Linked DNA regions of Homo sapiens. The protein of the gene in region 1 interacts with the protein of each later gene in a pairwise test. Each region holds a gene or a part of one and is shown on either strand. Other genes may lie near its edges. The genes, in order: NTM and TRPV2.

Region 1 (4,993 bases):
GGCTTTTCCCAGATATACTACAAGCAAGAGAATGGCTGGCAGGCACTTGGTGGCCTTTTTCTGTCTTCCATAGGAAGAATTTTCTAACACAACAAACAGGTGAGGACACGACTCGTCTTTACAAGCTCTCTGTGGTGCTTCCCAGCATGGAGCAGATCCACAAAAGAACTCTGAGGGGCGTAGCAAGGAGACCAAACACAGGCACCCAGGGAGAGCGCCTGGCATAGCCACAGGGCCATTGAGATCTGCCACAGGGGGTGTTTGCCCGCTCTCAGTCGTCTCCCGAGCTGCAGAGTCCCCAGCCTGGAAACAAGGTTTCAGCATTCCCTTACATGGTAACTACGCCAGGCCCCTGCTGGGCTGAACACCTGGCTGTGGCATTCTCCTCCCTGGAGGCTTCCACTGGCAGGTCAGGCTGCAAGGAGGGAGTTCAGAAGAGAGGAGAGAACACCTCAGTGCAGGGAAGCGGCACTTGTTTTCCATCTCTTACCCAGGGCATCTTCTTAGTCACAGGGAGGGAGCGGGAGACGGGAGGTGGGAGTGTGCGGGAATTGAACAGGAAATGGGTTTCAAAGATGTGTGTGGATGTTCAGGAGAGCACAAGGGATGAAAGAGGCAGAGCAGTGTGCTGACAGCTGTGTCCCCTGCCGGGAGTTAAGGACTCCAGTGTGCAGGACACGTATGGAATTGTACGGTGTGATTCACGCATATGAAGCTATCTTCATATGAATGTGAACACTCACAGTGTTGAGGCAAAACATTCGACCTGGCTTCCATAAAGGCCTGCTGGGCCATATGGACTCAGAACCACCCTTGTCGTCTCAGAGTCCTCAGCCTCGGGCACAGACAAGGGCCTTGGTTGGAAGAATCTTGGAGTTGCCTAGAGGGGAAGGACTTACGCAGAGCAGAGAAACATAGTCTCTCACCCTTGAAGGCATCCGGCGGAGGCTTCTCTCCTTTGATTCCAAAGAATGTGCTCTGTAGATGACAGAGTGAGCATCTACAAAGGGGGAACGTCTGGTGATGGTTTCTGTGGACACATAGTAGTTAGATTCTAGAAGACACAACCAGTTAGTGACCGATCCTAAATGACAAGCATTTCTGGGTTGAGATTTAAATCCGCAGGAGCTTTACAGGAGTGCTCCTTGGTCACCTGTATCCTAGCACAGATGCCTTTGGTTTTGTGTTTTCTCCTTAATGCAGGGTAGAGAGAATAAGTATCCCCTGGGCTTCTCAGCATGGGGATCTGCACCTCTGAGAAGTTCCGGCCTTAGGGATACTGTGAATCAGACACCAGGGAAACATGAGGTTGATGACCTATTGCATTTCAATCTCATGGCTACCTATTTAGCCACGCCCCCAAATTAGGGATTTATCCCAAAAGGCCAAGACATAAAATCATATGGGCACTGCCTCCTAGCCAGGAGTTCTAGACTTGATGGAATAATCCCACATGGAATTGAGAAGCCTGTTTTGATTTTGATTTGTTTTAGCCAGAAATGTATCCAACGCTGAGCATCCAAGTCAGGCAGGCAGGTTCTGGCTTTGTTCCTTGTTCCCTAATCCAGGAAGACATGGACTTAGTGAGGCCACCAGCTTTAAATACCTCTATTAAATTCAATGCAACAGAGTATGCCAGAGCAGGTCCAGTCTGAGGAGGTGGCCTGGTTCCTTGAGTAGCTAATTCATCTGGGCATCCAAACTTATGTACTCTACAGAAATCAAAGCTCCACTGGTCATGGGGTTTCTTGGCCACAAGGGCCGAGGTAGCCAGAAAACGTATGTTTCAGAACAATAGGGAAGCTGCTGGGGAACTGTACTGCCTTGCAGTTCTCCTGCCTCCTGTGTTTGTCTCCATCTCCATACACTGGGGCAGGTTCTGCATCCCAGTGTCCTCATTGATCTCCAGTTACATCCACATGCACAGGAAGGCTTCCTGTTCCTTTGTTTGACTCACCTCCATCCATGTGGGCTGGCTTCGGCCTTGCAGGCATGTGATCCTTGAGCTGCATCTGCTCTTACCCCATCCAGATGGGGAAGAGGTCAAGTGCTCCAGGTGGAACCCAGGTGCCCTGCCCTGAGATAGAGTGATTGGCAGGATGGCCTCTGTGCCCAAGGAAGCAGAAGCAGCAGGCAGACACATTGTTTTGTCCAACAGGTTCTTTTCTGAGCCACAGGCCAAGCAGCTGGAGGGTGGGTGAGTATTTCAGGCAGGCAGTGCTCAGAAGTGGATGGGTGATGAGGCACTCAGCACAGTAGTCTGACTTTATTAAAGCTCTGTGTAGGATATTAATGAATCTGCCACCTTCTTCTTGAATTTGAGCCTGAGCCATGGCCTTTGCATGTTATGACACAGTAAGGAAGAAGGCCCAGGACACTTTAACCTGAGCCTCATGTTCTCTCCTTGCAGGGGAAGGCTTCCCGTTATCTAGTGTGTGTGTCTTGGGGATGTGGGCCATAGAACGTTCACTTCTAATGCTGGGGCTGGAACACCATGTGTTTCACTTAGAGGGATGACTCACCAGGGGCAAGGCCAAATGACAGCAGACCAGGCAACCACCGGGCTTTCCTTCCATTTTCTCCCAGACCACTCACGGCGAGTGTGTTCTCTCCACAGGTCCAGGCGCCGTCAGCGAGGTGAGCAACGGCACGTCGAGGAGGGCAGGCTGCGTCTGGCTGCTGCCTCTTCTGGTCTTGCACCTGCTTCTCAAATTTTGATGTGAGTGCCACTTCCCCACCCGGGAAAGGCTGCCGCCACCACCACCACCAACACAACAGCAATGGCAACACCGACAGCAACCAATCAGATATATACAAATGAAATTAGAAGAAACACAGCCTCATGGGACAGAAATTTGAGGGAGGGGAACAAAGAATACTTTGGGGGGAAAAAAGTTTTAAAAAAGAAATTGAAAATTGCCTTGCAGATATTTAGGTACAATGGAGTTTTCTTTTCCCAAACGGGAAGAACACAGCACACCCGGCTTGGACCCACTGCAAGCTGCATCGTGCAACCTCTTTGGTGCCAGTGTGGGCAAGGGCTCAGCCTCTCTGCCCACAGAGTGCCCCCACGTGGAACATTCTGGAGCTGGCCATCCCAAATTCAATCAGTCCATAGAGACGAACAGAATGAGACCTTCCGGCCCAAGCGTGGCGCTGCGGGCACTTTGGTAGACTGTGCCACCACGGCGTGTGTTGTGAAACGTGAAATAAAAAGAGCAAGAAAGAAAAAGGAAACAAAATAAGACCGTCTGACAGCAACAACGGTCCCACAAACAAGTCACAAAAGATACCGTTAAACTTTTTTTTTTTTTTATCATTTTACTACATGAACATCATGGATAACAAGGGATTCTGATTCATTATTAATTTCATTAATTATATTTTCTGATATGAGTCTAGAACTTACTGCAAAAACAAGACAAAACTAAAAAAATACAACTGAGAAGGGTGAAGAGAAGTATGTTTGTTAAACAGTAAAAATGAATAGTATACTTCTTAACTAGGTTTACAACTGGTGGACCACACACCAGGCACTAATCACCTGGTGAGGATTTGGCATATCCACCAAAAAATGCATCCGATTTAACCAACATCTCCACCAGCGCTACGGACTCCTCCCAATTCTGACATCTCTTGCAGACAATACTATGCTCTCTACACACTGTTTAGAAATGGAAAGGTGATCTGCACTGTATCTTGGGTTTGTTGGCTATGCTTCCTTTGATGACATATATTATACAGTATATATATACATATATTTTTTTTGTTAGAGTTCTAGCCATTTTATTTCTCCGCAGGGTCCTTTCTCAGACATTACTGCATGCTGTATATGGCGTTAGCTGTGTGTTGATCTTCTAAAAGATGATAGAGTTTACTGGTAATTGTGTAATCAGCTCCTGCCTTTTTATTTTCTTGGGTTATTTACATGTCAGAGACATTTATAAAAAGTGAAAGGATAAAAAAAAAAAAAAACAACTAATACCGGGCGCAGCATCTTTCCAGGTGTGGCTCTGCGCTAGGCCACCCCAGGTGGCCCCGCTTTCTCCATTCTGCCCTGTGGCGTTAACAGACAGCAAGCAGCTGAACAAGCAGTACCGTCAGTACCCACTTGCTTTAGCCCATTATGGGAATCTCTGATGCCTTTGTGACCACTGGAGAGTTTAATCCTCTTGGTTTATTTTATTTCCCACCTTTGTGTGAGTGTGTATGAAAGAGAAGAAAATGCAATTTTTAGGTAATCTTTTTTTTTTTTCCCCTCCCCTGAAAGTCTGGGAACCTGAGAGTCCTCGGGGAGGGGTCCTGGATGTGATGAGGGAAAGGGGGATTGGGGGATCCGGGAGGGTGGGGTTGTCTCTGACTTGACATTAAAAAGTGTTCCATGTCCCTCTTCACCTGGTGTGGTACCTCATTCTACAGCGGGGCGGGGGCACAGCCTGCCTGGCTCAGGTTTGAAGAATGGGGGAGGATGGGCTCTTAAACCCTCCTGGGATGGAGTGGTGGCAAGTGCTGAGATGACAAACAGGAAGGACGTGGGACCTCCTCCATCCCCGCACAGAGGCAAGGTGAGGGTGCGTCTGATAGGGACTGCATTTTCAGTGCCTTCGGGAGGTCCTGGCCAGGGCTGCCAGTGTCCTGCTTGTGCTCAAACATCTTACCACACAAGTGGGCAAAGGTCAAGTCTAGTCAGGGAGAAGACTTTAGGCCCAATTATTTCTGGGAAGCAGCAGAAAGTCACTGTCACGGAAAACAAGAAAACCCCCGAGAGCCAAAAGAAATCTCCCCGCAAAAAAACAAAACAGAAAGCCAGCTTGAAACATTGTGTTTAGTTTTAAATAATCTCCCATCAACCAGTCCTCCAAACCCAACCTCCAAACCTCACCTCTAGCCACATAAGAGGAACTGAGAGACAGAAATGGGTCCGAGCCAAAACACTCAGGAATGACGGCACTTGCATTTCCAAGTCACCTTCACCTGAGAGGAACCAGGAAGG
Region 2 (7,285 bases), on another chromosome or scaffold:
GAGCCGAAACGCCCAGCCTGCAGCTGCATTTTTAATGCCTAGAGCTTTGACTAGCTGGAAGTTATTCTGGTAGGAAGAGTAAACATGAGGCAGCCCCCACTTTGTTCCAGATAGCTTACCAATGGCCTGTTCCAAATAGCTTTTGCCAATAGCTCACCAGGGCTGGCCTCATGGGCTTACAGTGGAGATTTTTGAAAGATTAAGGAAACGATAAACATAAATAGAAGTTTTAACCCTTTTTCGCTGCCCTCCCAAGTTTTTTGGAGTGCTCCCTGGGGTGTGTGAACCTCACTTTCTTGTCTAGAGGCACTGCTGTGTGGCCTATGAAAGCAGTGTCCTGATCTGTTCCTCCTTTCCCATTCCTCACGCGTGAAACCAGACTGCTTCCTAACCTGTTTGGATTAGGGACCACTTTCTAGTCTGTTGAAAATTCTAGATTCTGACCGCGAAAGTGCACACACAGATACAGCTAGTAGACTCTGATCTCAGGGGCCTCAAGGACCCCAGGGCTAGGGATCAATCTGCCATTTGAGGAGTTCAAGGAAGGCCACAGGGCAGGGGAGGGGAAGGAAGAGCCAGGCTGGCTGGCAGGCTGGGGCAGATGTGGCTGGGTGCGTGTGTGTGTTTAAGAGTTTAGACAAACAAGGACCTGCGTGTATGGGGGTACGTGCACGTGTCAGCTGCAGCTCTGCAGACCGTGGGCAGCTGCTGAGTCCTGGGTGTTTCCCAGCCTTGGCCCAGGATCAGTGCCAGGAAGGGACCATGAATGCAAGCTCATATGGCCACCCTGCAGATTTTCAGGCACATCCTGCAGCGGGAGTTTTCAGGACTGAGCCACCTTTCCCGAAAGTTCACCGAGTGGTGCTATGGGCCTGTCCGGGTGTCGCTGTATGACCTGGCTTCTGTGGACAGCTGTGAGGAGAACTCAGTGCTGGAGATCATTGCCTTTCATTGCAAGAGCCCGGTGAGCCCACAGGAGCATGGGTGCACGCAGAGGACCCAGCAGAGTTTCCAGCAAGGTCCACAAATTGGGGCTGCCTGCTGGACCATATCTGCCCCATTCCTGTGCCAGTGGGGGTGTGGCTGCATGTCCCAGCAGGCACGACCCTGACCATGGCCACCGGGCCCATACTCAATCCATACTCTAGTCCCATCCAAGACGGGGATCATGCCAAGGGCCTCGTGGCAACCATCCGGGTCCTCTCTGTTAACCAGCATCTCATTTGGAGGGCAAGCCCCTTAGTCACACTGTAGCTGGGAGGGTTGGCGTGAGGTCCTTTGGGGCTCCTGGGGTGTGGAAGCCTGCTCCCTGTCCTCTCTCCTCATTTCCTGGGCCCTTGCTTTGATCTTGACATGGAGTGGGCAGCCTATTTGCACTTGTTGAGTGTACCCATGGCTCTCCCCTCCCCACCCCAGCACCGACACCGAATGGTCGTTTTGGAGCCCCTGAACAAACTGCTGCAGGCGAAATGGGATCTGCTCATCCCCAAGTTCTTCTTAAACTTCCTGTGTAATCTGATCTACATGTTCATCTTCACCGCTGTTGCCTACCATCAGCCTACCCTGAAGAAGGCAAGGGCGTGAGGTTTGGGGGGGCACATCTTGGGGGAGGCCTGCTTGAAACAACCCTGGGGGAAGATGGGGCAGTAATAGTGCTGAGGCATGGGCTGCTGGAGTGACATTCCCAAGCTTATGGGAGCCAGCACTGCAGTACTAACGGTGATACAGTGAAGATTTGCTGAGTGCTCACTGTATGTGAAAAAGGATTCTAGGTGATGGACATGTGTTGACTAATTAATGTGCCCCAAAACCCTTGAGATGGTGAATTATAATCACCCCCAGTTTATAGTAGAGGGAAGGGAGGCACAGAGAGGTTAAGTAACTTGCCCAGGGTCACACAGAATGGAAGTGGTGTGGAGAGGGAATCTGAATCCAGGGAGTCTGGCTTCAGACCCTACACTGAAATGCTACACAATGTGCCTCTCAGGATCCAGGGGTCCTTCCCTGGAGCCCATGTTCCCATGCCGTTCTGAGGAGCCTCTCCACAGCTCAGGCTCAGAGTAGGCCCTCAGCTTCAGCTCTGAAGGGTGAGCTGTTCGAGAGAGGACCCAAGGCCCTAGGTCTCATCTGAGTGTGTCTTCAGCAGGCCGCCCCTCACCTGAAAGCGGAGGTTGGAAACTCCATGCTGCTGACGGGCCACATCCTTATCCTGCTAGGGGGGATCTACCTCCTCGTGGGCCAGGTGAGTGCCCCTCCCCTTCTCCTACCAAGAAGCAAACCTAGAATTCTGCTTCAGGGGGCTTAGAGAAAGTTAGCTGCATCCCCTCACTGACAATACCCAGTCCCACCCAGAGCAACCAGCCTCACTGAAGCTGAGGGCCAGAGGTTCTGGCCTTGCCTTCTGAGTCCCCAGGAACCCCTCTGCTGTGCTTTTGGGGTTCCTTGGGGTAGCAGATAGCTTCTCTGATTCCTTGGCAGTACAGACTCTGCTCCCCCAGGAATGGAGCTGGAAGCGCCTGCCCCTAGCCAGGCCCCTCGGCTGGGAAGCTCCCCTCTTGGGGAGCACAGAGACCAGAGGTAGGTGGGGTTCAGGCTATTTCCCCCAGTAGGGCCTCTTCAGTGGGAAATGCTGTAAGCCTGCAGGACACAGGCTGGACACCAAGACATTGGGACCTCCGCAGAGTGGGCAGAACTTGGGCACCAAACGCAGGTTGGCTGGGGTATGGGTGCTCCCTGTGAGGCCAGGGAGAAGGGAAGGGAAAGGTGCTCTTCCCCTTCCTGCATGCAGTGCACAGGCTCTTCACCTGCACCCCCCGGCCTTGCCTAGGTGGCTGCTCTTTCTGGAAAGAAAGTCCCAAGCTATCTCAGCTATCAGAAGTATTCATGAGTCCCCCAAAACCAAAGCTGCTGACTTAGCTCTAGCCTGGGTGGCAGGCTCCCACTCAGCCAGGCCAGCAGGGGGCATGCGGGAGAGCAGGTTTCACAGCCCTCTGTCCTCCCTTCCTCCGCAGCTGTGGTACTTCTGGCGGCGCCACGTGTTCATCTGGATCTCGTTCATAGACAGCTACTTTGAAATCCTCTTGTACGTGGGTTCTCACTCCTCCTTCTCTCAACTGTCTCTGAGGTCTGGAAGGGGCAGTTGTGGCAGAAGGCACCAGGTTGGCTTTAGAGGCGAGGACACGGGGCCCAGGAAGTCGGGATCTGTGTACAGGCCAGTCCCAGGAGTCTGGGCTGCCGTCCAGCCTGGGGCCCCTTGTGCTCCCATCACTGTAGATGGTGATAGTGACATTTACTAGGCCTCGGCACATACCTGTTTCACTTAGTCCTTGAAAACACTCTATGAGTCAGGCATCATTATTATTATGCCCATTTTACAGTGGGAGGGAACTGAGGCCCACAGAGGTTAAATGTCTTGCCTAAGATGGAGGTCAGGACCTTGGTCAGCATAGGCCAGTGGGGGCTCAGGGAGCCAAGTGGCCCGCAAGCCCACCTGGATTCTGCTCCCACACAGCCTGTTCCAGGCCCTGCTCACAGTGGTGTCCCAGGTGCTGTGTTTCCTGGCCATCGAGTGGTACCTGCCCCTGCTTGTGTCTGCGCTGGTGCTGGGCTGGCTGAACCTGCTTTACTATACACGTGGCTTCCAGCACACAGGCATCTACAGTGTCATGATCCAGAAGGTGAGAGAAGGGGGTGGCCCACCGGGACTCTTTTGGCCTCATCAGGCAAGAAGAGCCTTCCTCCACAGCTATCCTAGGCAGAGGAGGGCATGTGTACATCTGCCTGTGCGCCAGCACTCAGATGCTTGCTGGATGGAAGCTTAAGTACAGGCCTGCACATACCTCTCTCAGGGCTCTGCATGCACACGCAAACAAACGTACATATGTGTGTTTGCAGGTGTCCACACGGGAGCATGTGCATCCTTCCACAAGCAAGGAGCAAAGAATATGTGCATAAGCTCATCTGCATGTCTGTGTCCTGCGATGTGTGGGCGCGGGCATGTAACTGCATTCATTTATGTATTCAGCGCATGTTTAGGGAGTGCCTACTGTGGGCCGGGCCCTGTTCTAGGTGTTGGGAATATAGCAGAGAACAGAACAAGTCCTTGCTCCCCTGAAGCTGATGTTCTGGTGGGAGGAAATGAAAACCTTAAGAAAACAACTGAGAACATTCCACACTGCTAAATTCTATGAAGGAAAAAAAAGCACAGGACAATGTGATGCAGAATGGCTGGGACCAAGTACCCTTTAGATGGGATGGTCTGGGAAGCCTCTCTAAAGAGGGGATGTTTAAGTTGAGACCTGAAAGAATGATTCAGCCACAGCAGGGTGAAGAGGAGATATTCTCAGCAGAGGGCACAGCAGTGGCTGCCACGAGCCAGAAGGAGCTTGGGGTGCTTGGGACAGGGTGAGGAGGCTAGGTGGCTGGGGAGATGGCAGGAGGGTGGAGGTGAGGAGGTTGGGAGGAAGGGAAGGGCCAGGGGCCCCTTCCACGGGGAGGGATTTGGAGGTCCCCAGAGGCTTTTTTTTTTTTAATTGTAGTAAAATACACCTAACATGGAACTTTTTTTTTTTTCTTTGAGATGGAGTCTCACTCTTGTTACCTAGGCTAGAGTGCAATGGCACCATCTCAGCTCACTGCAAACCCCTACTCCTGGGTTCAAGCGATTCTCCTGCCTCAGCCTCCCGTATGGCTGGGGTTGCAGGCACCCACCACCATGCCCGGCTAATTTTTGTATTTTTAGTAGAGACAGGTTTTCACCACGTTGGCCAGGCTGGTCTCAAACTCCTGACCTCAGGTGATCCGCCTGCCTTGGCCTCCCAAAGTGCTGGGATTACAGGCATGAGCTACTGCGCCTGGCCCATTTTAACCTTTTTTTTTTAAAGTATACAGCTAAGTGTCATTAAGTACATTCACACTGTTGTATAACCATCACCACCATCCAACTCCAGAACTTTCTTGTCATCCCAAACTGAAACTCAACACCCATTAAACAACTCCCCATTCCCTTCCCCCAGTCCCTGGAAGCCACCATTCTAATTTCTGTTTCTACGAATTTGATGACCATAGCTACATCGTAGAAGTGGAATCATACAGTATTTGTCCTTTAATGTCTGGCTTATTTTACTCAGTATAATGTCCTCAAGGATCAGCCATGTTGTAGCATGTGTCAGAAATGCCTTCCTTTTTTTTTTTTTTTTGAGATGGAGTCTTGCTCTGTTGCCCAGGCTGGAGTGCAGTGATGCAATCTTGGCTCACTGCAACCTCCGCCACCCAGGTTCAAGCGATTCTCCTGCCTCAGCCTCCCGAGTAGCTGGGACTACAGGCATGTGTCACCACATCCGGCAAATTTTTTTTATTTTTAGTAGAGACGGAGTTTTGCCACGTTGGCCAGGATGGTCTTGAACTCCTGACCTCAGGTGATCCACCCACCTTGGCTTCCCAAAGTGCTGGGATTGCAGGCTGAGCCATCACGCCCAGCCAATTCCTTCCTTTGTAAGGCTGAATAATATCCCATTGTGTAGATACACCACATTTTGTGCGTCCATTCATCTGTCGATCCAGTCACCTGTTGCTTCCACCTTTTGACCATTGTGAATAATGCTGCTACGAACAAGGGTGTAAAAGTATCTGTTAGAGTCCCTGCTTTCAATTCTTTTGGGCATATACATACCCAGAAGTGGAATTGCTGGGTCATACAGTAGTTCTATATTTTATTTTGTGACCCTGGAAGGTTTTTTTTTTTTGTTTTTTGTTTTTTGTTTTTTGAGATGGGACTCATTCAGTCACCCAGGCTGGAGTGCGGTGACACGATCATAGCTCATTGCCGCCTTGACATTCTGGGCTCAAGCAATCCTCCTGTCTCAGCCTCCTGAGTAGCTGGCACTGTAGGCTTGTGCCACCATGCCCAGCTACTGGAAAGTTTTAAGCAGGAAAACAATGTGATCTGAGACATATATATATATATATATATATATATATATACATATTTTTTTTTTTTTTTTTTTTGAGACGAAGTCTCACTCTGTAGCCCAGGCTGGAGTGCAGTGGTGTGATCTCGGCTCACCACAACCTCTGCCTCCTGGGTTCAAGTGATTCTCCTGCCTCAGCCTCCTGAGTAGCTGGGATTACAAGCACAGGCACACCACTGCACCTGGCTAATTTTTTGTATTTTTAGTAGAAACGCGGTTTCACCATGTTGGCCAGGCTGGTCTTGAACTCCCAACCTCAGGTAATCTGCCCGCCTCAGCCTCCCAAAGTGCTAGGATTATAGGCATGAGCCACCGCACCCAGCCAGATCTGAGATATATTTTTAAAAGACTCCTCTGCTCGGTGTGGCTCCACAGGCCCACATATGCATATGTATGTGTGCGTATGTGCAGTGTACACGGGAACCATGCTGCTGTGGGTGAGGCAGGGTTCTGGGGTCGTGACTGGTGGCCCAGCTACCCACCCTGGCCCCTGGGCACATGTGTTCCAGGTCATCCTGCGGGACCTGCTGCGCTTCCTTCTGATCTACTTAGTCTTCCTTTTCGGCTTCGCTGTAGGTAAAGGCTCCCTCCGGCCCCCTCCCCCTTCCCCACGTTCCTTGTCCACCCTGTACACTCCCAAGGCTGCCCACCGGTCTCCTGGGCTAAGGACCCCTCTCCCTTCATCCCATAGCCCTGGTGAGCCTGAGCCAGGAGGCTTGGCGCCCCGAAGCTCCTACAGGCCCCAATGCCACAGAGTCAGTGCAGCCCATGGAGGGACAGGAGGACGAGGGCAACGGGGCCCAGTACAGGGGTATCCTGGAAGCCTCCTTGGAGCTCTTCAAATTCACCATCGGCATGGGCGAGCTGGCCTTCCAGGAGCAGCTGCACTTCCGCGGCATGGTGCTGCTGCTGCTGCTGGCCTACGTGCTGCTCACCTACATCCTGCTGCTCAACATGCTCATCGCCCTCATGAGCGAGACCGTCAACAGTGTCGCCACTGACAGCTGGAGCATCTGGAAGCTGCAGGTGCCACCAGAGAGGCTCCCTGCCCCCACCCCACCCCACACTCAGGCGGTGGGGAGTGCTCCGGACCCTGCGGAGCTGGGCCTTCCCTAGCCAGGAGATGCCGGGTTGGGCAGCTCTACCTTGTCAGTCTTCCTCTTCCTTTTTTTTTTTTTTTTCTGGAGACAAGGTCTTGCTCTGTCACCCAGGCTGGAGTGCAGTGGCACGATCACAGCTCAATGCAGCCTCGGCCTCCTGAGCTCAAGTGATCCTCCTTCCTCAGCCTCCTGAGTAGCTGGGGTTACAGGCACCTG

Evidence for each region.
Region 2: the proteins of NTM (region 1) and TRPV2 interact in a protein complementation assay, tested with the Homo sapiens proteins (one study listed by IntAct).

Annotation. Positions count from the first base shown.
Region 1 is NC_000011.10:132,332,429-132,337,421, forward strand, and holds the end of NTM (neurotrimin isoform 9 precursor), read left to right. Parts: exon of another isoform or gene 1-335; intron 336-2,617; coding exon 2,618-2,718; 3' UTR 2,719-4,394; downstream 4,395-4,993.
Region 2 is NC_000017.11:16,425,306-16,432,590, forward strand, and holds part of TRPV2 (transient receptor potential cation channel subfamily V member 2), read left to right. Parts: intron 1-793; coding exon 794-964; intron 965-1,416; coding exon 1,417-1,572; coding exon of another isoform or gene 1,573-1,584; exon of another isoform or gene 1,585-1,585; intron 1,586-2,143; coding exon 2,144-2,242; intron 2,243-3,011; coding exon 3,012-3,082; intron 3,083-3,511; coding exon 3,512-3,677; intron 3,678-3,894; coding exon of another isoform or gene 3,895-3,954; exon of another isoform or gene 3,955-5,014; intron 5,015-6,478; coding exon 6,479-6,545; intron 6,546-6,660; coding exon 6,661-6,995; intron 6,996-7,285. UniProt on the Homo sapiens protein: Calcium-permeable, non-selective cation channel with an outward rectification. Seems to be regulated, at least in part, by IGF1, PDGF and neuropeptide head activator. May transduce physical stimuli in mast cells.